Linked DNA regions of Homo sapiens. The protein of the gene in region 7 purifies or fractionates together with the protein of the main gene of each other region. This does not show direct contact. Each region holds a gene or a part of one and is shown on either strand. Other genes may lie near its edges. The genes, in order: SMC1A, PRKAG1, OBSL1, FLNC, IQGAP2, YTHDF3 and CAMKK2.

The links.
Region 1: the proteins of CAMKK2 (region 7) and SMC1A purify together in Homo sapiens (affinity purification with mass spectrometry; one large-scale study listed by BioGRID and IntAct). This does not show direct contact.
Region 2: the proteins of CAMKK2 (region 7) and PRKAG1 purify together in Homo sapiens (affinity purification with mass spectrometry; 2 studies listed by BioGRID and IntAct, with this or other methods). This does not show direct contact.
Region 3: the proteins of CAMKK2 (region 7) and OBSL1 purify together in Homo sapiens (affinity purification with mass spectrometry; 4 studies listed by BioGRID and IntAct, with this or other methods). This does not show direct contact.
Region 4: the proteins of CAMKK2 (region 7) and FLNC purify together in Homo sapiens (affinity purification with mass spectrometry; one large-scale study listed by BioGRID and IntAct). This does not show direct contact.
Region 5: the proteins of CAMKK2 (region 7) and IQGAP2 purify together in Homo sapiens (affinity purification with mass spectrometry; one large-scale study listed by BioGRID and IntAct). This does not show direct contact.
Region 6: the proteins of CAMKK2 (region 7) and YTHDF3 purify together in Homo sapiens (affinity purification with mass spectrometry; one large-scale study listed by BioGRID and IntAct). This does not show direct contact.

Annotation. Positions count from the first base shown.
Region 1 is NC_000023.11:53,412,655-53,416,154, reverse strand, and holds part of SMC1A (structural maintenance of chromosomes protein 1A), read left to right. Parts: intron 1-985; coding exon 986-1,174; intron 1,175-1,284; coding exon 1,285-1,397; intron 1,398-2,719; coding exon 2,720-2,923; intron 2,924-3,016; coding exon 3,017-3,255; intron 3,256-3,500. UniProt on the Homo sapiens protein: Involved in chromosome cohesion during cell cycle and in DNA repair. Central component of cohesin complex. The cohesin complex is required for the cohesion of sister chromatids after DNA replication.
Region 2 is NC_000012.12:49,012,277-49,015,776, forward strand, and holds part of PRKAG1 (5'-AMP-activated protein kinase subunit gamma-1), read right to left. Parts: intron 835-3,500; coding exon 786-834; intron 1-785. UniProt on the Homo sapiens protein: AMP/ATP-binding subunit of AMP-activated protein kinase (AMPK), an energy sensor protein kinase that plays a key role in regulating cellular energy metabolism.
Region 3 is NC_000002.12:219,558,040-219,561,539, forward strand, and holds part of OBSL1 (obscurin-like protein 1 isoform 1 precursor), read right to left. Parts: intron 1,459-3,500; coding exon 1,186-1,458; intron 421-1,185; coding exon 145-420; intron 72-144; coding exon 1-71. UniProt on the Homo sapiens protein: Core component of the 3M complex, a complex required to regulate microtubule dynamics and genome integrity. It is unclear how the 3M complex regulates microtubules, it could act by controlling the level of a microtubule stabilizer.
Region 4 is NC_000007.14:128,854,406-128,857,088, reverse strand, and holds part of FLNC (filamin-C), read right to left. Parts: intron 2,677-2,683; coding exon 2,407-2,676; intron 2,315-2,406; coding exon 2,177-2,314; intron 1,891-2,176; coding exon 1,775-1,890; intron 572-1,774; coding exon 439-571; intron 345-438; coding exon 168-344; intron 1-167.
Region 5 is NC_000005.10:76,672,285-76,675,784, reverse strand, and holds part of IQGAP2 (ras GTPase-activating-like protein IQGAP2), read right to left. Parts: intron 2,337-3,500; coding exon 2,196-2,336; intron 1,834-2,195; coding exon 1,749-1,833; intron 1,309-1,748; coding exon 1,076-1,308; intron 1-1,075. UniProt on the Homo sapiens protein: Binds to activated CDC42 and RAC1 but does not seem to stimulate their GTPase activity. Associates with calmodulin.
Region 6 is NC_000008.11:63,171,621-63,175,120, reverse strand, and holds part of YTHDF3 (YTH domain-containing family protein 3), read right to left. Parts: intron 2,469-3,500; exon of another isoform or gene 2,381-2,468; coding exon of another isoform or gene 2,323-2,380; intron 1,471-2,322; exon of another isoform or gene 1,440-1,470; intron 1-1,439. UniProt on the Homo sapiens protein: Specifically recognizes and binds N6-methyladenosine (m6A)-containing RNAs, and regulates their stability. M6A is a modification present at internal sites of mRNAs and some non-coding RNAs and plays a role in mRNA stability and processing.
Region 7 is NC_000012.12:121,286,710-121,290,209, forward strand, and holds part of CAMKK2 (calcium/calmodulin-dependent protein kinase kinase 2), read right to left. Parts: intron 1-3,500. UniProt on the Homo sapiens protein: Calcium/calmodulin-dependent protein kinase belonging to a proposed calcium-triggered signaling cascade involved in a number of cellular processes. Isoform 1, isoform 2 and isoform 3 phosphorylate CAMK1 and CAMK4. Isoform 3 phosphorylates CAMK1D.

The DNA.
Region 1 (3,500 bases), on a different chromosome or scaffold from region 7:
AGTTTTGTATTTTTTAGTAGAGACAGGGTTTCACCATATTGGTCAGGCTGGTCTTGAACTCCTGACCTCAGGTGATCCACCTGCCTCAGCCTCCCAAAGTGCTGGGATTACAGGCGTGAGCCACCATGCCCGGCCCACTTTATATTATTTTAACATCGTTGAGTTTTGTGTCTTGTTTGTTTCACCTATTGTGGGCTTTTGTCCATGTCATTAAAGGTTGTAAAACTATCCATTCTGTGAATATACCATTTCTTTAGATTGGGTTCTAGCTTCTTTTTTTAAACTATTCTTTCCTCTTTTTTTTTTTTTTTCACTATTTTTTTAAAGAGAGTCTTGTTCTGTCACCCAGGCTGGAGTGCAGTGGTGTCATCATAGCTCATGCAGCTTTGAACTCTTGAGCTCAAGCGATCCTCCCTCCTCAGCCTTCTGAGTAGCTGAGACTACAGGCGCATGCCACTATGCCCAGCTAATTTTTTTTTTTTTTTTTTGAGATGGAGTCTCGCTCTGTCGCCCAGGCTAGAGTGCAGTGGCACGATCTCGGCTCACTGCAACCTCCGCCTCCCAGGTTCAAGGAATTCTCCTGCCTCAGCCTCCCGAGTAGCTCATGCCCAGCTAATTTTTAAAGTTTTTGTAGAGACTGGGTTTTGCCTTGTTGTCCAAGCTGGTTTCAAACTCCTGGCCTCAAGCGATCTTCCTGCCTCGGCATCCCAAAGTGCTGGGATTACAGGTGTGAGTCACTACGCTTATCCTGGGTTCTAGCTTCTGGCTGCTATATAGTAACTGCAAAAGGACTGTTTTTCCTAAGCCTTTGACCCAGAGGTTTGGTTGTGCTCAGTCTTTATGGGGACAGAGGAGTAGTCTCTCTTCCCATTAGTCTGAGTACTGAGTGATTAGGGGACATTTTTGTTCATCTCAATATCTTTATTCCTTTTCCTCTCCTCTTCATCCTGACTTTCCCTCTACTGCCTCGTCCCTCTTCCCTTAGGTAAGTCAAATCTCATGGATGCCATCAGCTTTGTGCTAGGTGAAAAAACCAGCAACCTGCGGGTAAAGACCCTGCGGGACCTGATCCATGGAGCTCCTGTGGGCAAGCCAGCTGCCAACCGGGCCTTTGTCAGCATGGTCTACTCTGAGGAGGGTGCTGAGGACCGTACCTTTGCCCGTGTCATTGTAGGTGGGTGAGGCTGGCCAGAAAGCTCTCCTTGGGTCCTGGGAGGTGGCTAGACTAGTTGATTGGGACAGGAAGGAGGCCTGACCCTTGCCAACTCATGCATTGTCTTGTAGGAGGTTCTTCTGAGTACAAGATCAACAACAAAGTGGTCCAACTACATGAGTACAGTGAGGAATTAGAGAAGTTGGGCATTCTCATCAAAGCTCGTAACTTCCTCGTTTTCCAGGTGGGCGTTTTTAACAGTTATTGGCTATCTGGTTTTTGCCAGACCATGTCCCATCCCCACTCTGTCTGCTCCATCTCAGGCTTTATCATCTCTCCCTTGAACTAATGTAGCACCTTGTTCACTGAGCTTCCCAACTTCAGTCTGGCCCCTGAGCCAGGTTCATCTTATGAGGACACACATTTGTTTTGTTTCCCCTCCCTTTTTTCCTTAAAACATTTCAGTGATTCCGTATTGCCTTACAATGGTGGTTCTTAAACTGTAGTCTCCAGACCAGCAGTATCAGCATTACCTGGTAACATGTTAGAAAATGCACATTCTCAGGCCCTATCCTAGACTTCCTGACTTGGAAGAAACTGTGGAGTGGGGCACAGCAGTTTGTGTTTTACCAAGCTCTCCAGTTTATTATGATGTCGGCCGAAATTTGAGAACTATTGCCTTAGGATGAGATCCAAACTCCTAAGCCTATCATTTAGGAAACACCATCATCAAAATCCAAATACCATCTGCATGTTCTTCTCCAGCCTTGCACTCCAGCCTACTTAAACCATTTATGGTTCTGCAAATTCACCTGCTTTCTTTGGCCTACAGGTCTTTGCATATTACTTTTCCTCTTCATAGAATAACTTTTTCTCTGTTTTTTTTGTTTGTTTGTTTTTTGTTCTTGTTTTTTTTTTTTTTTTTTGAGACGGAGTTTCGCTTGTCACCTAGGCTGGAGTGCAGTGGCACGACCTTGGCTCACTGCAACCTCCGTCTCCAGGGTTCAAGTGATTCTCCTGCCTCAGCCTCCCAAGTAGCTGGGACTACAGGCGCCCGCCGCCATGCCTGGCTAATTTTTGTATTTTGGGTAGAGATGGAGTTTTACCATTTTGGCTAGGCTGGTCTTGAACTCCTGATCTCAGGTGATCTGCCTGCCTCAGCCTCCCAAAGTGCTGGGATTACAGGTGTGAGCCACCGCGCCCGGCCACCTTTTTTCTTTTATTTTCTTGGTTAGTTTCCCTCCAGCTTCCAAACTCAGCACAGATGTCACCTTTGGGAAGCCTTCTGAGATAGATATCCCTATCAGTCTCCTACCCCCAAGCTTCATTTTGTCCTTTTCCTATGCTGCTTCTGTTACTGCACATAACACTTTGTTGTCTTTGTCCCTTTGGCTCCCTGTGCTCCTCAGAGGGCAAGGAATTTGTCCTCAAAGCCCAGTGTGAAATGTGGCAGCAGGGGCATGGGAGAGAAAGTTGGTAACTTTTTCTGGGTGAAGGAGTGGAAATGGGTAAGGTGAACTGGGTTGGCTGGGGTCTGAAGTGGAAGAGTGTTTCGACCTTTACTAGGGTGCTGTGGAATCTATTGCCATGAAGAACCCCAAAGAGAGGACAGCTCTATTTGAAGAGATTAGTCGTTCTGGGGAGCTGGCGCAGGAGTATGACAAGCGAAAGAAGGAAATGGTGAAGGCTGAAGAGGACACACAGTTTAATTACCATCGCAAGAAAAATATTGCGGCTGAACGCAAGGAAGCAAAGCAGGAGAAAGAAGAGGTAGGTGGCCAAGCTACCTCTTGGCTCTGAGGGACCAGGATGGAGCCAGTGCCTTATCGATGCACCCCTGCCACCATTCCCCTGTTTGCACAGGCTGACCGGTACCAGCGCCTGAAGGATGAGGTAGTACGGGCTCAGGTACAGCTGCAGCTCTTTAAGCTTTACCATAATGAAGTGGAAATTGAGAAGCTCAACAAGGAACTGGCCTCAAAGAACAAGGAGATCGAGAAGGACAAGAAGCGTATGGACAAGGTGGAGGATGAACTGAAGGAGAAGAAGAAGGAGCTGGGCAAAATGATGCGGGAGCAGCAGCAGATTGAGAAGGAGATCAAGTAAGAGGCAGACCTGGGCCTGCAACTTGTGGGAAACCAAGAGGCCGTGCTGTTTATTAGGGTTCCTCTGAGCCCGGAGTTCAGTACCTATACTCATTTCTCTGTTATTCTCCTAACTTGCTTTTGTAAGAACCAGGCACATTTCTTGACTTGCAGTTTAGACAAATAGAATATTTAAGCACTCAGGCCCTGGGTAGACAGGTGCTCAGATGAGGGAGAACTCAAAAGGGGTGGTGGCCTTGCCA
Region 2 (3,500 bases), about 72 Mb from region 7:
TGGCCAGCATTGGAACTGTCTTCCCTGTGCTCTGGATTTTAGAGGTTTAGTGCTTCTATTACTAGATTAGTTCTAAGAGCCTTTTCCTAATTTTTTTCTTTCTTTTTTTTTTTTTTCTGAGACGAAGTTTCACTCTTGTTGCCCAGGCTGGAGTGCAATGGCACGATCTTGGCTCACTGCAATTTCTGCCTCCCTGGTTCAGGCAATTGTGCTTCAGCCTCCCAAGTAGCTGGGATTACAGGCATGCGCCACCACACCTGGCTGATTTTGTATTTTTAGTAGAGACAGGGTTTCACCAGGTTGGTCAGGCTGGTCTCAAACTCCTGAGCTCAAGTGATCCACCTGCCTCGGCCTCCCAAAGTGCTGGGATTACAGGTGTAAGCCACTGCACCAAGCCCTTTGCATAATTTTTGGTGTACATTCAGTGGCTTTAGTGAGCTTGCTGGGTGATAAAATCCTGGTAGCACTGTTTCTGGACTATGCAGAAAATACCCAGGACTTCTAAAACATGGTAGCCAGCCCAGAGTTGCCTATGGAAGTTTTGCCTGTACCTCAGATGTTTCTCTCAAGTGGTTTGATAATTGAAGATATTAATCATCCCCACTCTGCCCAAGATTTATTCCTGGGTGATCTTGCCAAACTACTGTCACTGATTTTTGTGGTTTGGCACATTATCTGGCCCTGCTTTGATTTTTCCAGGGGAGAGATTCAAAAGCATTGTTGAAGACATTGTTAGGGTCAGGCTATTGTTTTCATGCCCAGTTTCCTTTCTTCAGTAAACTTACCTTGAGGATGCTCATTTTCCACAGCTGGGGAGCTATCTGAAGAAATGACCTGGAGAGATAAGAAAACAGATTCAGCTTAACCTGGTTCCATCCATTTTAGCCTAGCAACATTAGGGGAAGGGCTGGTGAACAAATAATGACTTTCTTTAAAGCACTATAAAGCCACTGCCCCCGCCAAACCCTTTTTTTTTTGTTTTTGAGACAAGGTCTCGCTCTGTCACCCAGGCTGCAGTGCAGTGGTGTGATCACAGCTCACTTCAGCCTTGACCTCCTCGGGGTCAGGTGATCCTCTCTCACCTCAGCCTCCTGAGTAGCTGGGACTACAGGTGCAAGCCACTATACCCAGCTAATTTTTGTATTTTTAGTAGAGATGGAGTTTTGCCATGTTGCCCAGGCTGGTCTTGAACTCCTGGGCTCAAGTGATTGCCCTCCTTGGCCTCTCAAAGCACTACGATTACAGGCACGAGTTACTGCACCCAGCCTTATAAGGCTCTTCAGAAATATGATCTCATTTAATCTTCATAACAACCCTGAGGTAAATACTATTATTAGCCTTATTTTCACAGATTGTCTCTGAGGGTCAAGAGACATTAAGCAACTTGCCCAAGGTCACATGGCTGATAAGGGGTGGAGTAGGCATTCAAACACCTATCTTCTGGTTCCAGAGCTTGTGGTTTGCTTTTGTTTACATCAAAATTTTAATAAATAACATACTTGAAAAAACAAATTTTTAAAAAACTACGTATACCTAACAAAATAATTTCTTATAACTGATGAAGAGTTTGGTTGGGTTTATCTTGGCAGTGTTCATTTTTGTAAATTTTTTTGTTTGTTTTGTTTTGAGGCAGAGTCTTGCTCTGTTGCCCAGGCTGGAGTGCAGTGGCGTGATCTTGGCTCACTGCAACTGCCTCCTCCTGGGTTCAAGCAATTCCCGTGCCTCAGCCTCCTGAGAGCTGGAATTACAGGCGTGCACCACCACACCCACCTAATTTTCATATTTATAACAGAGATGGGGTTTTACCATGTTGGCCAGGCTGGTCTCAAACTCCTGACCTCAACTGATCTGCCCGCCTCAGCCTCACAAAGTGCTGGGATTACAGGCATGAGCCACCACGCCCGGCCATTTTTATAAAATTTTTGAATGTATTTACTCCATTCTGATGAAATTCTACCTCTCTGGAATCACAGAAGAGAAGAAACCAATACTGCTACAATATTGTGCCTTCCAGAAATGCTTCTATCCACTTCTGAGCTGAACGAGCATTATCTGCAAAGCTCATGTTCTTGTACACTATACTGCCTAATGAAACACTAGGTCCTAAAAGCTAAGACTAAAGATCTGAGCTTAGGGCTAACCCCTACAAGATTCTCACAGATCTACTTTATTAAAACATGGAAGCCAGAGAGACAGCATTGTCTTCCCCAAACACAGACACTCACTAGGCATAGTTGTAGGCACTAGAACCACAGACACTGGTTCCACCATTGTCTAGCTCCATGGCAGAGAGAGAGCCACAACTGGGGAGGATCCCAGTAGCTGACTGTCAGCCAGTCAAAACCTGAATGACTGAGAGGTGGATAAGGAACACGAATGTACTGAAACTGGGAACTTGAGTCCACTCAGCACCCTTGTGAGTCAAAGGCTGCTATAGCCAGGGGATGCTGGTTTTCCAAGTTTCCCTTCCCAAGATAGTCTGAGATTAGAGAGTGCTTTGACTAGACAAAACTTAGAACCATTTCTGTGCTCCCTCAAGTGGGAACATTTGGAAATGCCATTGTTATTTAGGAACCCAGAAGGGATCACAACAATTTTCATCTGCTAGCATCAACAGTCTTGGCTCCATTTTCTCTGGGTGATATCTCCAAAATAAAACCATACTTCATCCCCATAGCTTCTGTAGTAACATGACATTAAAAACTTCAACCTGGGAGGTTGGCTGACAAACTTCCTAAACCAGGGAAGTTTAAGACAGCCCTAAACTTTTCTCCCTTAATGGGCTAGGGGAGAGTGCAGGGAGTAAGGGGGATAATCTCCCTCTTCCCACTGGACTGCATAAGACTGTCAGCTTGGCCTGCCATTTTGGCAAGACTATCAGAACAACAGCCTCATCACTTATAAGTGGGAGAGAGGGCTGTGATAAAGATAGACACATGATATATCAGAGTCTCACAAAGATCTACACAAAGGCACAAAAACAGCTACTTCTGTAGAATTTACCCATCATATGATATATACTGTACTGTGCTACAGTTATTTTGTTCATTATCTATCCAAACAGATTATAAATTCCTGGAAACCTAGAACTATCTTATACTTTGTATCTCCCATACCACCAAGCACAGGGTTTTGCATATAATTCACAGTTGTTTTGTTTTTTAATTCTCAAAGAATGATGCACACTGATATGAACAGATATGCCCAAGACTAAGTTACAGAGGGAGGAAAGAAACATAGAGCTAACTAGAGATACAGATACCAACATAAGAGAGTCAAACACAACTGCATATGTGACTTTTTTTTTGGGCGGGTGGGCAGAGTCTCGCTGTGTCTCCCAGGCTGGAGTGCAGTGATGCGATCTTGGCTCACTGTAATCTCCGCCTCCGGGGTTCAAGCGATTCTCCTGCCTCAGCCTCCCAAGTAGCTGGGACTACAGATGCCTGCCACCACGCCCAGCTAAGTTTTTTTTTGTATTTTTAGTAGAGACGGGGTTTCAC
Region 3 (3,500 bases), on a different chromosome or scaffold from region 7:
CACTGGCTCCCCAGGGGCCACACAGAGCGGGCTTGGAGTTGTCTCTAGAGCAAGGAACTGCACTGGAGGCTCTGGAGAAGAGAGGAAGGTGTCATCCCATGCTTGCCCTTGCCTCCCTGCCCTGGGTTGGCCAGGAGCACCCACCAGCCAGGATGACATTGAAGGTGATGGCCTCATGCCGGGTCTCACACACATACTCCCCGGCGTCCTCAGGCTGGGCGTGGGGCAGGGTCAGGGTGCGGGTGGGCCCCTCGGCACCCAGCTGCAGGGCATCTGATGCCTCCACTTCCAGCCCGTCCTTGTACCAGCGCACCTGAGACCCAGCTGGGGCCACCTCACAGCGCAGCTCCACGCGCCCTGGAGCCCCAAAATGCAGATCCAGGGAGCGGGCTGCCGGGTGCACAATCCTCTCTGGTGGGGCTGGTGGGTGGGCATGGAGAGGGGCACATAGGCTTGGCCAGCAGGCCTCTCCTGCCTCACCCGCCAGATCCTCAGCCCTCCCCACTGGCAGCACAGCTCTTGAGAACAGTGCCAGCTGCAGTCCATGGAGCAGCTGCTGTGTGCCAGGCACTGTCCTAAGAACCCTGTGTTTTTTCAATCAGTTACTCTGACCACCCTCAAGAGGTGCACAGCTGCTGGCTGCACTTCATGGCTGAGGACCTGAGGCCTCTTTAGAAGAAACTGACTTGCCTAAGGTCACACAGACAGAAAGAGGCAGATCTAGACTCACACCCAGATCTACACACCCCACTCCACACCCATCCCCACTTCCTATCCCCTTTCCCTGCCTTGCCTCTGATGCACTTGTTACCACCTGACAAACCATCTCTTTTATTTTTTGTCTGTCCACCCTCACCAGAGTTTAAACTCTGTGAAGACAAGAGGTTTAGTCTTATTGGTTCACTGCTGTATCCCCAGCATCTAAAACAGTGCCAAGCACATAGTAGTTGCTCAATGAGTATTGAACGAATGGATGAATGAACGAATGGTTCTAATTGCTGGGCACCCTCCCACCAGGCCTCTGGTCCTGACCTGATGTGGCTAAGCAGGATTCTGATGGCCAAACATGAGGAAGCTGGATAAGGGGAAGGCTGGGGATGGGGTGGGGGAGGTGGGGCTAGGTGGGTGTCTGTCCCTTAGCCCCCTACCTCTCTACCTCCTCTCTGTGCTGCAGAGACTGCCCACCTGTGACAGTGACAGTGAAGAAGGCCGAGTCATCTCCAGCATCACATACAAACTCGCCCCCGTCCTCGGGCTGAGCAGCAGGTAGCACCAGGCGGCAGCGTGGCCCATCCCTCTCCAGCACCAGGGCCTCGCTCTCCTCCACTTCCAGCCCATCCTTGTACCAGCGCACAGGGGCATCCTCCCGAGACAGTTCACACATCAGCACCACACACTCCAAGGTCACGGCGATCAAGGTCACCTCATCGCGAGGGTATATGATCCGCACTGGGGGTTCTGCAGGGTGGGGACAACCACAGCCTGTCACAAGCTCACCGTCAGCCTCTCTGGAGCCATTCGGCAGCATGAAGTCCCTATCACCCACATAATAATGAGAATAATAAGTAAAATAATAATAAGCAATAATAGGTCCACAGTTTGTTCTCTGAAATCCCTGGGGCCAGAGGGTGTTACAGAATCCAGAATGCTTTGGATTCCAGAAATGATGCGTTTCTCATCTATCACATACCTTCCTCAGCCCCCACGGGAGCCTCCCCCTTCATCGGTCACGTTAACATGTCTGTGGTATAACACATACTACATTCACCCTAAGCAGGATAGATTGAAAGATACAGAATCTTACAGATACAAGCATATATCTATAAGACACTCATATCTTATAGATATACAGCTATAGCTATATTCACCCTCAGCAGGATAATTAAAGCATAGAAATAGCTTCAGAGCAATCAAGCTCAGGTTTTCCTGAAATGACTTGGAATACAAAACTTACAAAAAGCCTTTTGATTTTGAGAGTTTTGGAATTTTGGAACCATGGATAAGGGATGGTGGATCTACAATAGCAAACATTGATATGACACTTCCTAAGGTCCAGGAACAGTCCCAAGCACTTGAAACATTTAACTCTCACGGCAATCCTAAGAGGAAGGTAGTGTTTTGTCCCCATTTTCCATATAAGGGACTGGGCACAGAGTGATTATACAACTTCCTTAAGGTCACAGCTGGCTACACCCACTCTGGGGCAGGAGGAGGAAATACCCTCTGTTAAAGGGAGGCTCAGACCCCACAGGTAGTGGCAGGAATTCCAAGCCAAGGCTTGCAGGAACTCAGTAATGCTTTTTGCATTCAACGTCTGTCTGAGAGTTCCCCAGGGGTGCTAAATGCTGATTCTGGGAGCTCATCTCCAAGTTCTGGTCACTCCTCTGCAGAAAGGGAACCATGTCAATATTAGAGGTGACCAGCGCATGGAGCCCAGGCCTGCCCACACCCCTGCTGCCCCCAGGTCCCCCCAGAATCTTCAAGTTTTGGGGCGACTACTGCTCCATTAGCCTCTGGCCCCCTGGTGGCTGGGCTGAGGAACTGCTAGCTTCCCAATCAGGGGCCAGGGTTGGGGGGGTGGGGGCTGGGGGTGGTTTATAGGGGCATGCATGGGCCGAGGTAACCACAAGCTCCCACTCAGCCCCCCAGCCTCCACGGAGACTCCTGCCTTGAGCCACACAACCCACCTCCCCCATGGGCTTGCTTGCTCTAAGGGTCTGGGGGATGCAGGCTGGTCCTCTGGGGCCGAGCAAGGCCAGGAGAGACCAGAATGCAGCTGCCTGAGGAGTGGGGAAGGTGATGAGGGCAGTGGGGTGAGGACAGGGTGCAGTGATGGGACCGGGTGGCTGCCCAGCCCCGGGACCTCAGCTTGGTGTCAGACTTGATTCGCTCTGGCCTAGAGCAGAGGTGGTGTTTGTGTGAACTTCCCTGTGAAGAGACTGGTGTTTGTGGGGAGCCTGAGCATGGGCTGGAGTTTGTGTGGCTGTGGCCATTCTGTCTGGCCATGGCTGGGTGGGAGAGGGTGAAGATGATTACGACAGGGCAGAATATGTGCAGAAGGCCTCTTAGGCATTGTGGGCTTGTGTGTGTAGAGTGCATTAGCTGGGGTGCAAGGAGCAGGGGGGCCCTAAACAGCTCTGCATGGGGCGTGACTTTCAGGGCAGGGCTGGGAGAGGACAGGACTGTGGCCGCAGTAGGATGGGGGCTCCAGTGCAGCCACTGGGGTTCTGTGCCCCCCAGAGCTGCCTAGCCCTATGGACCCCCAGCCCCAGACACACACTGGGCTGGGCGCTGTGAGCCGTCACCCCGAGGTCTCCGGCACTGAACCTCCGTCACTTCCACAGTTGTCCTGTGCTTCTCCCGCTTTGAATATTCCCCCACACCCCACCCCACTTAGCTCCAGTATCAGCTTTGAAAGCACTTCCTGTTGCCTGGCCAGGGTGGTGGCTCCCAGCCCCAGGGTCCCTAGACTGGCCCTCAACAACCCATGCTCTAAGATC
Region 4 (2,683 bases), on a different chromosome or scaffold from region 7:
CAGGAAGGGCTTGTGGCCCAAGAGGGACTGGGCCCCAGCTCCCTGGACAGCCTCTGTGGGGACTCCTGGCTTAGGAAGCAGGGCCCCTACCTCTGGAGCAAAGCAGCACCAGACTAGTGGCCAAGCACCCCCAGAAGTCACCCTGTTCCCCAGCTCCAGGCACTCACCGGTAGTGCCTCCCTCGAGCCCAGGACCGTAGGCTGACACCAAGCCTGGGTCCCCAGCCTGGCTCTGCTCCCCAACGCGGATCTTGAAGGGACTTCCAGGGATGTGGGCACCGTTGAACTTGACATCGATGGAGTGGACGCCATTCTCGTGGGGGATGAAGCGGATGGTGTGCTTGTCTGTGGATAAAGGGTTGGTGGCTTAGCCTCCATCCTTCCCCTCCCCAGAAGGCCCCAGCCCGGAAGGGAGTTGGCAGGGGCAGGGCCAGCTCACCACTGTCCAGCTCAGAGACGTAGCACTCCTCCACAGCCCCCGAGGGTGTGTGCACCCGGGCATCAATCACGCCCCGGGCACCGTTCAGCTGCACGGCAAAGGACGCTGGCTGGTTCACCTTGAGCCCCGTCTCCTGCAAAGGCCACGGAGGATGCTCAGACTCCTGGGAGGCCGGGGCTGGAGCAGTCTTCTCTGAAGCCCCACACGGTGCTCACTGTAAGCCCAGCCCAAAGGCTGCTGCCACCCCATGCCCAGCCTGGCCCCTGCCTGCCAGCCCAGCCTGGGAGCAGGAGGAGCCAGGGTCCGGTATGCAACCCTATGTGTGCACCTGCTATCCTAGCTGTGCTTGGTGTGTGGGAGATGACAGACGATGTGCCCTGTCCTGGCTGAGGAAGGAAGGGCCCCACTCTGTGTGAAGCAGGCTGAGGGCGGAGGGCAAGTGCCTGATGGGCTGTGTGGGCTGGGGGTGCCAGAGAGCTCTGAGGTAGGAAGCTGAGTTTCACTGGCCTGGCCTGGGAGAGCTTCCTGGAGAAGGTGGACCAACAGGGAGGACCAGAAGAAGCACAGAAGGGCTCTGGGGGAGGGATTGGAGCCTGCATCGGGGAGCCCAGTTCAGGAGTGGGAGGAGGAGATGCACAAGGACTCTGGATGGGCCAATGTGACCACCCTGAGGGGCAGCCAGGAGGCGCGTGGGAGAAGGAGGTGGGGTGAAGCCCATTCTGTGCGCCTTATGCAGAAGCTCCTTTACAATGTGTCCCCTGGACACCTGGCCCCCTGGTTTGCATGTTTCAGTGTGACTTGCTGAAAGCCTTCCTTGCACATGTCCGCTGTGACAGAATGAAAGGAACACACCACATCTCTAGAAGTCAGCAGCAAGAGAAAGCAAGCCAGGCCCCCAGCGGCCTGAAGAGGATGCAGCCCAGGCTCTGCAGCCCATAGGCATTCCCTTTAGAGGAGCCTCTCACACCCTCTGTGCAAACTGGTTTACTCTTAGTTTGTATAGATTTTATGCTCTCATTCTTATAAATGTTGTCATCTAGCATTCTTACAACAGAAGGTGGAACAAACTGTAACAAGAAATGGCAGGTGGCAGTAGGACAGGCAGACACACCCTGAGAAAGGCAGAACGAGGCGTGGCATGCCTGAGTGCACGGGCAAGCCCCCAGGGTGGGAGCCCACCGTCCCCAAGGGCCCTGCCTCGTGCCTTATGAGAAGGGACTCCTAACTGGCCCTTCCAAGGTCACTGCTAAATCCCTGGCCCCATGGACCTGCTGTCCTCAACTCCTGCCCATCTCTCAGATAGCAGAAACCCTCCACCCCCACCCTGGGCACAAACCTGGAGGCTGGTGACAGTGAGACGGCGAGCGTCATCCGAGAGGGAGGCCACAGGCACCACAAAGGGGCTGTCTGGGATGTGCTCATCATTGAACTTGATGGAGACCTCATAGTCACCTGGGGAGAGAGACCAGTCAGCACAGGTTCCGGGATGGAGGTTGGCAGGGCGGGAGCCTCCCCACCCTGGCCTTATCCCAGGAAAGGCTCTGTGGTCAGCGCTCAGATCTGGAGGCAGACACATGTTTCTGAGGGTGTGGGGTAGAGGGAGACGGGGCAGAGGAAGAGCAGGGGGCTCCGGGGAGGGGAGTTCTGTGGCCCCAAGCATCTCCTGCCTGGCCAGTGGGCAGAAACCCAGTCTGGAAGGTCAGGCAGGCCCAGCCCCACTGCCAGTGTGGACGCCCACCTGGTTCCTGGACGACATAGGAGACGCCGCAGGAGCCATCTTTGCGATCCTCAAATGCAATCTCCGCTTTGCTAGGACCCTCCACAGCAATGGACAGGCCCCCAGCGCCAGCCTCCCGGGTCCAGATGCTGAACTCGGCTGGGGACAGGCAAGGTAGTGGACTTCAGCATCATCGCCCCTCACACTGGCTGCCCTGACTTCATCCCCACTCCTGGCCACCTGCCCCTTACCTGGCACGCCGGCCACACCTCGCTCCAGCCCTGTGCCTCCGGCCCGCACCTTGTGGGCACCACCTTCACCCAGCGGCCCCACAGTGAACTGAAAGGGGCTGCCGGGCACGTGCTGGCCACGGTACTTGACAGCGACCGTATGGGGCCCCATTTCCTGGGGCACAAAGCGCACGCTGTAGGCGCTGTCCTCGCCCTCGACGATCTCTGCGGCTTCCACCTTGCCCGATGGGCTGGTCACCTGTGCAGTCATGTCCTGAGAGCTGGCCTCACCTGCAGG
Region 5 (3,500 bases), on a different chromosome or scaffold from region 7:
CCACAAATTCTAAATAGAAATGAATAATCATGAACTACCTTTGTTTTCTAGTAAGTCACTCACTCCAAGGGAGACCGAGGAATGAGAAATGAGTTTCCAAGTGAGGATTAAAAGAGGCCAAACTGATGTTACACTTCTATGGCCTGTTGATTAAATGGCAGACATGAGAACAAACATGACAAGAGGAAAGTGTTTCCTCAGAGCTCCAGGAGGAGTGAATCTGACTACCAGACTCATGCCTTTCTTGTTAATGATTAGTGATATAATTTGGAAACACAAAATCAATAGAATTAAATCTTCTTACATGTGTCATTAAGAAAGGCTTGAGAATAGAACAGAACATATTCACATACACAATCATCAACAAATATAAAATCTGGGTTTTCCTAACCTTTCAAAATCAAGTATTCCATTTCCTACTACAGTCGTTCCTTGGTATGTTTGGGGGATTGGTTCCAGGACCCCCATACACACCAAAATTTGTGCATACTCAAGTTTGAAATTGGCCTTGTGGAACCCATGTATGTGAAAAGTCATCTGTTTGTATATGTGGGTTCTGCATCCCATGAATACTGTATTTTCTCTCTGTCTTTGGTTGAAAAAATCCATATATAAATAGACCCGAGCAGTTCAAACCTGTGTTAATCAAGGGTCAAATGTATCTGACGTAGATAAGCAAGTTCTTCCTCACCGGAAAACTTTTTAAAAATGATTCCTCTCTTCTTAAGTTGAAAGAAGCAGAAATCTGCTATTTTGATTTTTAAATTCTAGGTACTGGAAGCCTGTAGCATACAAGGAAGAACAAGTATGCCATTTTGTCAGCAGCAGAAATAATACACACAGAAAAGACTCAGTGTAATAGGAGTGCTGTGGTGGGGGTGCGATAGGATCGCCAGACAGAGGCAATCTTGCCTGCACTTCCCTCTCTCCTCTTTCCCCAGTGGCTGGTAGAAGAAATGCTTGTAACCACCTGGGGTTCCTGTCCTCCATGCCCACTCTAGCTCTGGGCACAGAGCACATATTATTCTTGCCTACCATTCTTGCACGTTTCTCCAAAACTAAGGGCCCCTCTCACCTGAATTCCTGATACGTCTCTGATAAATAATTGTTCATAGATGAGAGATGCTCATTTTCTCCTTCAAACAGCTTGTTGGAGGCTGCGTGCTGAAGAACCTTGGCCACTGATCCTAAGTTTCTCCTTTGGTCAGAATTTATCTGACCTCCAGCTGTCATGTCGATGATATCAAAGCCATCTGGAGCTACAATGGCTGGATTCATGTACCGATAGTACAGGAGGTTTCCAACAATCTGGAGTGACGCAGAAGTGCATGACCATTTTTAAGAGAGAAAACTCAAGAGTTTTAGTTTTCTTTTTTTTTTTAAAGATATATATTCTCCTACATTTCCCAAGAGAAAGCAGATCATTTTCTGATGTAAATCCTAACAAGGAGTTTAATAAAGGCAATGAATATAATCACACATTATTAATAGCATAATTTGCAAAGTTATTTTTGATGAAAAAATGCTCATTGCCCCCAAAATGCTCTAATGCAAAGAATTTCAATAATGTCTAGGATCTCCAAATTAACCTCAGCTTAATCAATTATCTTGAGAGTCATTAGAAACAGAAGACCTGCAGCTTATTATAAATAATCATACATGGGGAATAATCTTACAAAGTTATATGTTGGTAATTTTGATTCATACCCCCAGGAGAAGCTATGGTGAGATTACCCTTGAAAATCTACCTTTAATAGCTCATCTTCTGTTGCATCGGGGAATTTCTCATGGATCGAATTCTTCAGTACTTTGGCTATATACCTCAATCCATAACTACATATAAAACAGATGACAAAAGAAAATAATGGAAAAAAGGCGGAGTGAGGAAAAAACACACAGCAATTGTTCCAGTCAACTTCAGCTGAGTAGTTTTTCTAAAAATTAAACATAAGATGAGATGGTAATGGAATCACAGGACTTCCACTGATGATAATAACTGAGCTGTGTTTGCTACTGAAGTATTGCCCCTTCTTTAGAGAACAGTCAGGAATTTAAAAGGTAAATGTAGGCAATCTTTTAAAATAGTAAACACAATATAAGGGAAAACTGCTGTCTTCACTACAGGGGCTTATTTTACATCGTATTCCAAGAACGTTCCAGGAAAGAATGTTAAACTTGCTGCAAGTACAACTTACGGCAGTAGATCAAGGGAAGAAATGATAGAATTCAGGACTTTGTCGGTGACCCTTCTCAGGTTCTCAATGGAAGCCTCCAGTTTATTTTTCACTTCTGGGTATGTTAGAGCTTGTTCTGTGGTCACATCATAAGGCAACTTGCTGAAAACACAAAGGCTTTAAATTAACTGGAGGCTTAGGTACAAGCATTAATTTTGCTGCCAAGTTGGTTCTATAGTCAAGCTTTGTATAGTGAATTGGACTTTGCCACTGACTCCAGTAACAAAATGTTTACTAAATGAGGGGAGGCTCCACCTTCACAGAGGGTACCTTCTGCAACTTGGAACAGGAAGGACTTGAGGCCTTCCCTCTGGTCTCTTCTGGCAAGATAAGAGGCAGACCCAGGTAATTTAGACTCAGCTAAATTTCTTTTAATTATAAAAAGCAAATGTTCATTACAGAAAAATAAAATCACATATAATCTAAAACAATACCAGAGAGGACAACCAATTTTCTTTTCTTTTTTTTAAATTAATTATTTTTTATTTTATTATTATTATACTTTAAGTTTTAGGGTACATGTGCACAATGTGCAGGTTAGTTACATATGTATACATGTGCCATGCTGGTGTACTGCACCCATTAACTCGTCATTTAGCATTAGGTATATCTCCTAAAGCTATCCCTCCCCCCTCCCCCAATCCCACAACAGTCCCCAGAGTGTGATGTTCCCCTTCCTGTGTCCATGTGTTCAATTCCCACCTATGAGTGAGAATATGCGGTGTTTGGGACAACCAATTTTCATACCTTAGTGCATAACTGTCCAATCTCCTCTGTGCATGTATGTCTGTGGGCCTCGCATATTGATGGGTGTAATGCAATTTGTGTAATCGACATTCTATACAGATCCTGTGTGGCGTATGTAATGAGCATTCTTTTCCCAGAAAAATGGGTTATTGCACCTAACTCCAACTGGAATATATACCCTGAACATTTTTTTCTGTGCCAACAAATGTATATCTATACCACGATTCCAAATACTTATTCCATTATGTGCTATACAAACATTTATTTAACAAATCCCTCAAAGCTAAATATTTTGACTTTTCCTGACTTTTTATTATTACAAACAGTACTGTAACAACCACCCACATAATTACATAATTCTCTGTGTACACTTTATTTCACAGACATCCTTTTACAGGAAACAAGAAGCTAGGGTTGCTTAAATCTACAACCACCCACCCAGAATAAGCCAATCCAACCTGGATTGTTAAACCTTACACCTTAAAGTTACTTGCCTGGTAACTGTAAAGAAAAGTACGT
Region 6 (3,500 bases), on a different chromosome or scaffold from region 7:
ATTACATAAACACAAGCCATATATACACTTCCCCTTACCAAAAACTTTAAGTAAATATCCCAATCTCAACACTGTAGTGAGTAAATTGTTACATAAGAATGTTGGAAAGAGTTCCCTAATGCTATATTTGAATGTAAAATAACTATTTCAAGTAGCGTTGTAGGCAATAAAAAAGATTTCTGAATGTTCTCTACCTTTGTTTAAATCTCTAAATTATTTAGTATAATAAAGAATGAAATAACTATTTTCGATCTAATTTGTTATAGTAAATGTCTTAAATGTCTCCAGTAAAGTTTAGGCTAAAATTAACTTGAAACAATATCACAATGAATAGACTTATAATTATGAAATATCTAAATAAAGAGGGCTTTAATTCTAAGCCCCCCAGAATGAAGACTTTCACATGAAACTACAAACAAAATTAAGACACAAAAGATAGCCATAATTATCCTTGCAATACATGAGAAACAAGTCAGAGAATAATTTTGTTCAAAGGTCATCTCCATAAACACTCTAAAGTTGTTATTCTCTGGATGCTGTTTCAGAGTGCTTTTGAGCAGACTCAGAAGTAAGGTCCCGAATTTGAATCTCAAGTCCAGCACTGAGGAGATGATCTCCAGTTAGGGATTTAAACTCTCTAACCTTTGACTGTTCGCTGTTTCAGAAGGTTATGTATGAATAGTACCTACCTCATCTCATCTGATTATTAAATGACAGTGTTCAATAATCTTAAATGTAATCACATTAAATATTACAAGATCCAAATAGGACTAATATGACTTTAGAACCATTTAAACAGAAGTGTTACTAAGCTAATACTTGATGAGGTGGCACTATGTAAATATACTATTCTATACTAGTGAAGATAAAGTTGAAAGTTTCCGATGGATGTCTACAAATTAGAAACAAAAAGAACTCAGTATCTAAAGATTTACTGCTCAAAGGTACAACATCACCAAATTTTATGAAGTTAGGAGGGTGACGGGTTTAAATTGCGTATTCCTCTGTAATATAACATTTTTATTATCCTTAAATTTTCCCATGAGTGTAGAGCACCTAAAATGTAATATTATGAGTTAACAGTGGCTTGGGAGCAAAGATATACAAAATCCCTTAAATCTTTGCCATCCAATGAGTGGCAAAGATCAAAGATATGATGTTACTGTGTAAAGCATTCAAAGTAGACTTCTTACTACACCACACTGCCCCTCAGAGGCCACAAGAAGCAACCTGAAGGTCAACTTGATCCTGGCTCCACTAACATAATTTAACTATGTCTGATAAGGACTGCATCAGAACTAGGATTGAGCTAAATATGCTCCATGGAATTTAAATATGTAATAGCCACTAGAAACCAAAATAAAGAGGGTGCCTTAGGTTACTTCTAGTGCCATTATAAGGCTGGGTTATTCATTTCAGTCCAAGAGATTCTGACATACCTGTTCTCCTCTGACACTGGCTTTACTGCTCCTAAATCAAAGGTAAGTATGCATGGTCTATTACTTCTTGAAAAAAAATTCTTCACTATTACACTCATACATGTTAGTCAGTATTTGAAACAGCTAACAACTTAAAAATTATGACTAACTATCTCTCATATCCACTAGGTTCTCGAAAATCTAGTTCATACAAATACAAAAAGTGCCAGGCCAGGAGCTCAAGACCAGCCTGGGCAACACAGCAAGATCCCACCTTTACGAAAAATGTTTAGAAATTAGCCAGGAGTGGTGGCATGTGCCTATAGTCCTAGTTACTCAGGAGTCTAAGGAGGATCACTTGAGCCAAGGCATTCCAGGTTACACTGAGCTATGATTATGCCACTGCACTCCAGCCTGGGGTACAGAGTGAGACTCTGCCTCTATTTAAAAAAAAAAAAAGGAAAAAGTACTTACTTAAAATTTATCTGTATATATATATAAATATAATCCTGTTATTCTTATTTTTTTTGTTCTATTATTTCTCTTCTAAGAGGCTAGGCCTGAGAACAACCCATATACTATTATAAATACAGTCTACGGTCATTTTTAAATGATGCATAAATGTCTATAAAGTCTTAAAATATAGTACAAAAAGTCAATCTACTTTAAAAAATGTTTAATTAAAAGTACTTCACATATACCGAGAAGCAATTTGCATTAAACTAGCCCTTAAGTTTTGGAAGTGTATCTTAAAGAAAACTATCTTAAAGACTTTCGTTTTTGAATATTTACTTAATGACAAGCTAATGTCTTGGAGTCTGAAAACCATTAAATAGAAATGAAATCCAAGCTAGTTCCATAGTCTGTAAAATTTCTTCAGGGGTAAAAAGAACAGATGACTTACATGATTCTTCGCCTGTTTCCTCTGCTCTATGAAACAGAGTCAAATCAAGATAGAACATGGGCCTTAGGAGCCAGGTGATTCTTTGCTCTGGTCCTGACTACATCAAGTTAGGAAAGTCAACAGATCTGTGCATCATGTTTCCCCACCTACAAAAACAGCGACAATACCATATACCCGCTATCTCCTTACAAGGATGTTGTGAGGATTGATAAAATGAAGCCTAAAATAATGATAGTAAAGTGCTTTGAAATCATTTCTCGGGAGGACGAGGAGAGAATACAACAGAATATTGCCAAAATATAAGGCATTTTCCACTACTTTTCGAAAATTAAAACTTAGCCAAATTTAACCTAATTATTTTAAATTACAGTTGTATAAAACAATGCATACGTCTCTCCGTTGGAAGAGAGCGGAGAGGAGGAAAAAGATAAATCCTGTTCCATGAATTTGCTATTTATAAACTTAGAGGAGAAAGGAGGCAGTAAGGCCTAAGACTGTAAGTATGGCATCTGACACTTCCAACCATAGTACTCCCAAATAAAAGTACTGCACACCTTTATTCCAATAAGCAAAAATTCTACTTAATAAAAAAATAAAATACGAAGTGTTAAATTATGAACCAATAGGCAAATAATTATCCTTAAATTTCTACTATCCTTTGGTACTACTCTTGCCAAGGATAATAAAGAGTTCTGATATTTAACACAGGGACAGACTTAATTAAAAAAGAATTCAAACTTATAAAACAAGTAAACCTTGAATTATTACTTATTCTACAAAAAACATTTTTGCCATATCAAAGACAATTATTTAGAATTCCTTTTGGCTTCTGTAATGAATTAAGTAATTAAGGATATATAGAAAATCAAAGACACTAAAACTAGGTGTTAGGCTAAAGCTGTCAACTAAAGACAATTCAGAAAAGAAACAGGATCTCTGAAATTATAGTAAGTTGACTGAAAAGGATTACGTGTTCAAAACTTTAACTGACACCAACTTCTCAAGGACATACTATTTTTCATAAGCTTGCTAAGTTCAGAATTCAAGATTACTCATATTTAGAATACTGAGGTTGCAGTTCAAGAAAAATAACTTCATGAAAGTAAACAGAATTGTAAAACAATTTTACGAGCTGGGAACAAGCTAAGGCAGAAAAGCTTTTCTCAAATACACACATA
Region 7 (3,500 bases):
AATAGGTCCTGCTATTATCCCTGTTCCACCAGTGGGGAAACTGAGGCACAGAGAGCCTGGCTGACTTGCTCACAATCATCCAGCTTCTGAGTGCTTCAGGAGGGCACAAGTGTGAATGCTCACTATATAGAAGCTATTGCCAAGAAAGAACTTTGGCAGTTACTGAATTCACGACCCTCAGTTGGCTTCCTTTTTTTGGGGGGCGGGGCGGTTGGGGACAGGGTCTCACTCTATTGCCCAGGCTGGAATGCAGTGGTGCAATCATAGTTCACTGCAGCCTCGAACTCCTGGGCTCAGGTGATCCTCCCACCTTACCTCCCAAGTATCTGGGACTACAGGCATACACCACCACACTTGGCTAATTTTTTGTATTTTTGGTAGAGATGGGGTTTTGCCATGTTGCCCAGGCTGTTCTCAAACTCCTGGGCTCAAGTGATCCACCTGCCTCAGCCTCCCAAAGTGCTGGGATTATAGGCATGAGCCACTGTGCCTAGCTGGTTTCAATTTATTTTAAAACGAAATCTCTTAAATCTCTAATCCTGCCGTGCTAACTCTTCATCTTCCCCTCTAGCCCTTGTCCATATGCATCACATTTTACAAAATTAAAAATAGCGTATGCATATCATTTCACATCCTTGCTTCCATGTGTCATAAGAGCACATTCTCACATGGCTTTTGCAATCAGCGCAACAGAGGCTGCAGATGGAGTCACCGAGACTCAGAGAAGTTGAGATGACCTCATCCAGGCAGCCCAGCAGGCTCGCAGTTGGGCCAGGAGGAGATCCAGGTGGCCTGCCCTGCAGCCCAGTGACCCTTGAGGCCCTGGATACTCACAGAGTAAGCAGTTCCCCTGTCTTGCTGCTTGCCAGGGCCAACTGTCTTAAGAATTCTTAGGCAGCTATTACTTAGTCAGTAATGAAATATCACTGAAAGAATGGCCCCAGTCACGCAGTCAGACATCTAAAGCCAGCTGTGGGCCAGGTACAGTGGTGGCTCACGCCTATAATGCTAGTGCTTTGGGAGGCCGAAGCAGGAAGATCGCTTGAGGCCAGGATTCGAGACCAGCTTGGGCAACACAGCAAGACCCCATCACCACACAAAAAAATGTTTACATTAGCCAAGTGTGGTGCTGCACACCTGTGGTCCCAGCTCCGTCAGAGGCTGAGGTGAGAGGATCCCTTGAGGCCAGGAGGTTGGGGCTGTACTGAGCTATGATTGCACCATTGCATTCCAGCCTGTGCAACAGAGAAAGGCTCTGTCTCGAAAATTTTTAAATTTAAAAAATATAAATAAAAATAAAACCAGGTGTGCATGGGTGGCCCCAGCCTTGAAGTGTGAGGAGCTTACGAATGTGTGGGTGAGTTTGGGTATGTGTTTAGAGGAGGGAGGTATTTGGAAATAAAGTGTAGAAACCATCTTCCTTCCTTCCTCTTCCCCCACTGCATCCCTCTCAATCTTTCACTGAACCAAAGGAAGAGGTTGGAAAACAACTGGAATTTCAGTTTGTAATGAACAAGAAAAAGACTTCTACCCAGCATGCTCTTGGCAAATCAGAGATGGAGAGGGCCAGCTCGAAACCCACAGGCATCGGTGCCTGGGCTACCCACGGCCCCTCTCCCTCCCTCCTCCCCACCTTTTGGACATCATGCTAAATCTAGCTGCAAGCCTCCTCAGCTGAGGGACAAGAAGAGTGCAGGGAGCCAGCTCTGCAGCTCTGCGGGGCCCAACGTCCCCACACCTGGACCTAGAGGGCAGAACTGTCCAGGATGAACCGAATAAAATATTTCTCTGCCAGAAGCCTTGAAGGCAATACCCCAAAGCACATTTCAAAAATGAAAAAGGGAGTGTGCTCTCCCTTCTGCACCCTGGCCCCCGCAAAACACTGGTTCCCCATTTAAACTTCTCTAACAGAAGCTTCTCTCAGGCACCACCCACAATGCTCCTACCCCACCCGCTGGGTTCCTGCCTCATGCCTAAGCCACGTGGGCAGAGGGGCAACACCTTGGCCTCCCCACTGACTCCCACCCCCCTTTCCTCCGAGGACCACCATCCCTCTCTTTTCCAGGTTGGGATTAGCATTTTTATCTCTGCAACTGCCATCTCTCAACTATTTACAGAAGCCACCAGGATAAAAAGAGGCAACATAAAAATAGTTGCTCAGCAGCTTTCAGGATGGGGTGGGGTGGGGGTGGGGGCACTACAGAATCTTCTCATTTTCTTTCATTCCTTTTCAAAAGGGAAAGGATGTCAGAATTGTTCATCTTTTCCAAAAGGCTCTGAGACCACTCACCTGGGACAGGAACCAAGTCCCAGTATTTCTCAGTTCCCCAGGGTATAGCCTGTCACCAGCACCAATCCCCCCACCCCACCCCAACCAAAAGAGCGGGCTGGGTGAAGGGTCGAGCCTGCAGAGCCAGGGCGCCCCACTCTGCCCCGTTTCCGTCACCTCCTGGGCCTCCTTCCAGCTTTCCAAAAAGCGAGCCAGTTTAAAAAAACAAAGCAAAACTTTGGCTTTTCTCTATGCTTAAAATGTTTCATAATTGAAAAAAAAAAACTTCAGTGGCAATACTACAAACATGACTGAAACCGAAACACTGGCAGCTAAAATAATCCCTTTCCCATTTGGATCACTAACGTCCCCAACGGGGAAAGCAGCAGCCAGGGGTCTTCCCTACAAAATCTAACAGAACTCACATCATTTTAAAGATGTCTTTTTTATTATTATTATCTTGGTTTTGTTGAGAAAGGGGTCCAATCAGGGAAGAAAACAAATAATAATTCTAAATCTTATTTCTCAGAGCCCAAAACTATTCGGAAATGCTTTCCATCCCATAACCTGCCAGGGAAGGTGGACTCCACTCCATCAGAAAACGAGCATAATTTGCCAGTACAAGGAGCCAAAGTTGGGAGCGATGGCTCATGCCTGTAATCCCAGCACTTTCGGAGACTGAGGCGGGCGGATCACCTGAGGTCAGGAGTTCGAGACCAGCCTGGCCTACATGGTGAAACCTCGTCTCCACTAAAAATACAAAAATTAGCCAGGCGTGATGGGACGTGCCTGTAATTCCAGCTACTTGGAAGGTTGAGGCACGACAATCGCCTGAACCCAGGAGGCAGAGGTTGCGGTGAGCTGAGATCATGCTACTGCACTCCAGCCTGAGAGACAGAGCAAGACCCTGTCTTTAAAAAAAAAAAAAAAAAAGGCGGGGCGGGGAGCCAAGGGAGGCCTAAGACCTCAGGAAGAGAAGGTACATCAGGAAAGGATACAGATCCCAGAGGACCTTGAGCCTTGATTTTCTCATCTGTGAAATGGTGCCAGACCTACCTAAGAGGGTGGCTATAGAGTTGATCTTCTCTATGGCAGTCCCTAGTACACAGCGTGGCTCAAGCTAATTGTTCCGCAAAGATCACGTCCTCCCTTCCTTTCTGTACTCCGCTTCCCTTGTCTGGAACATGGAAGGGTTCAGGAGCTGATCTCTGCTGGCCTTCCTCTCAGGCCA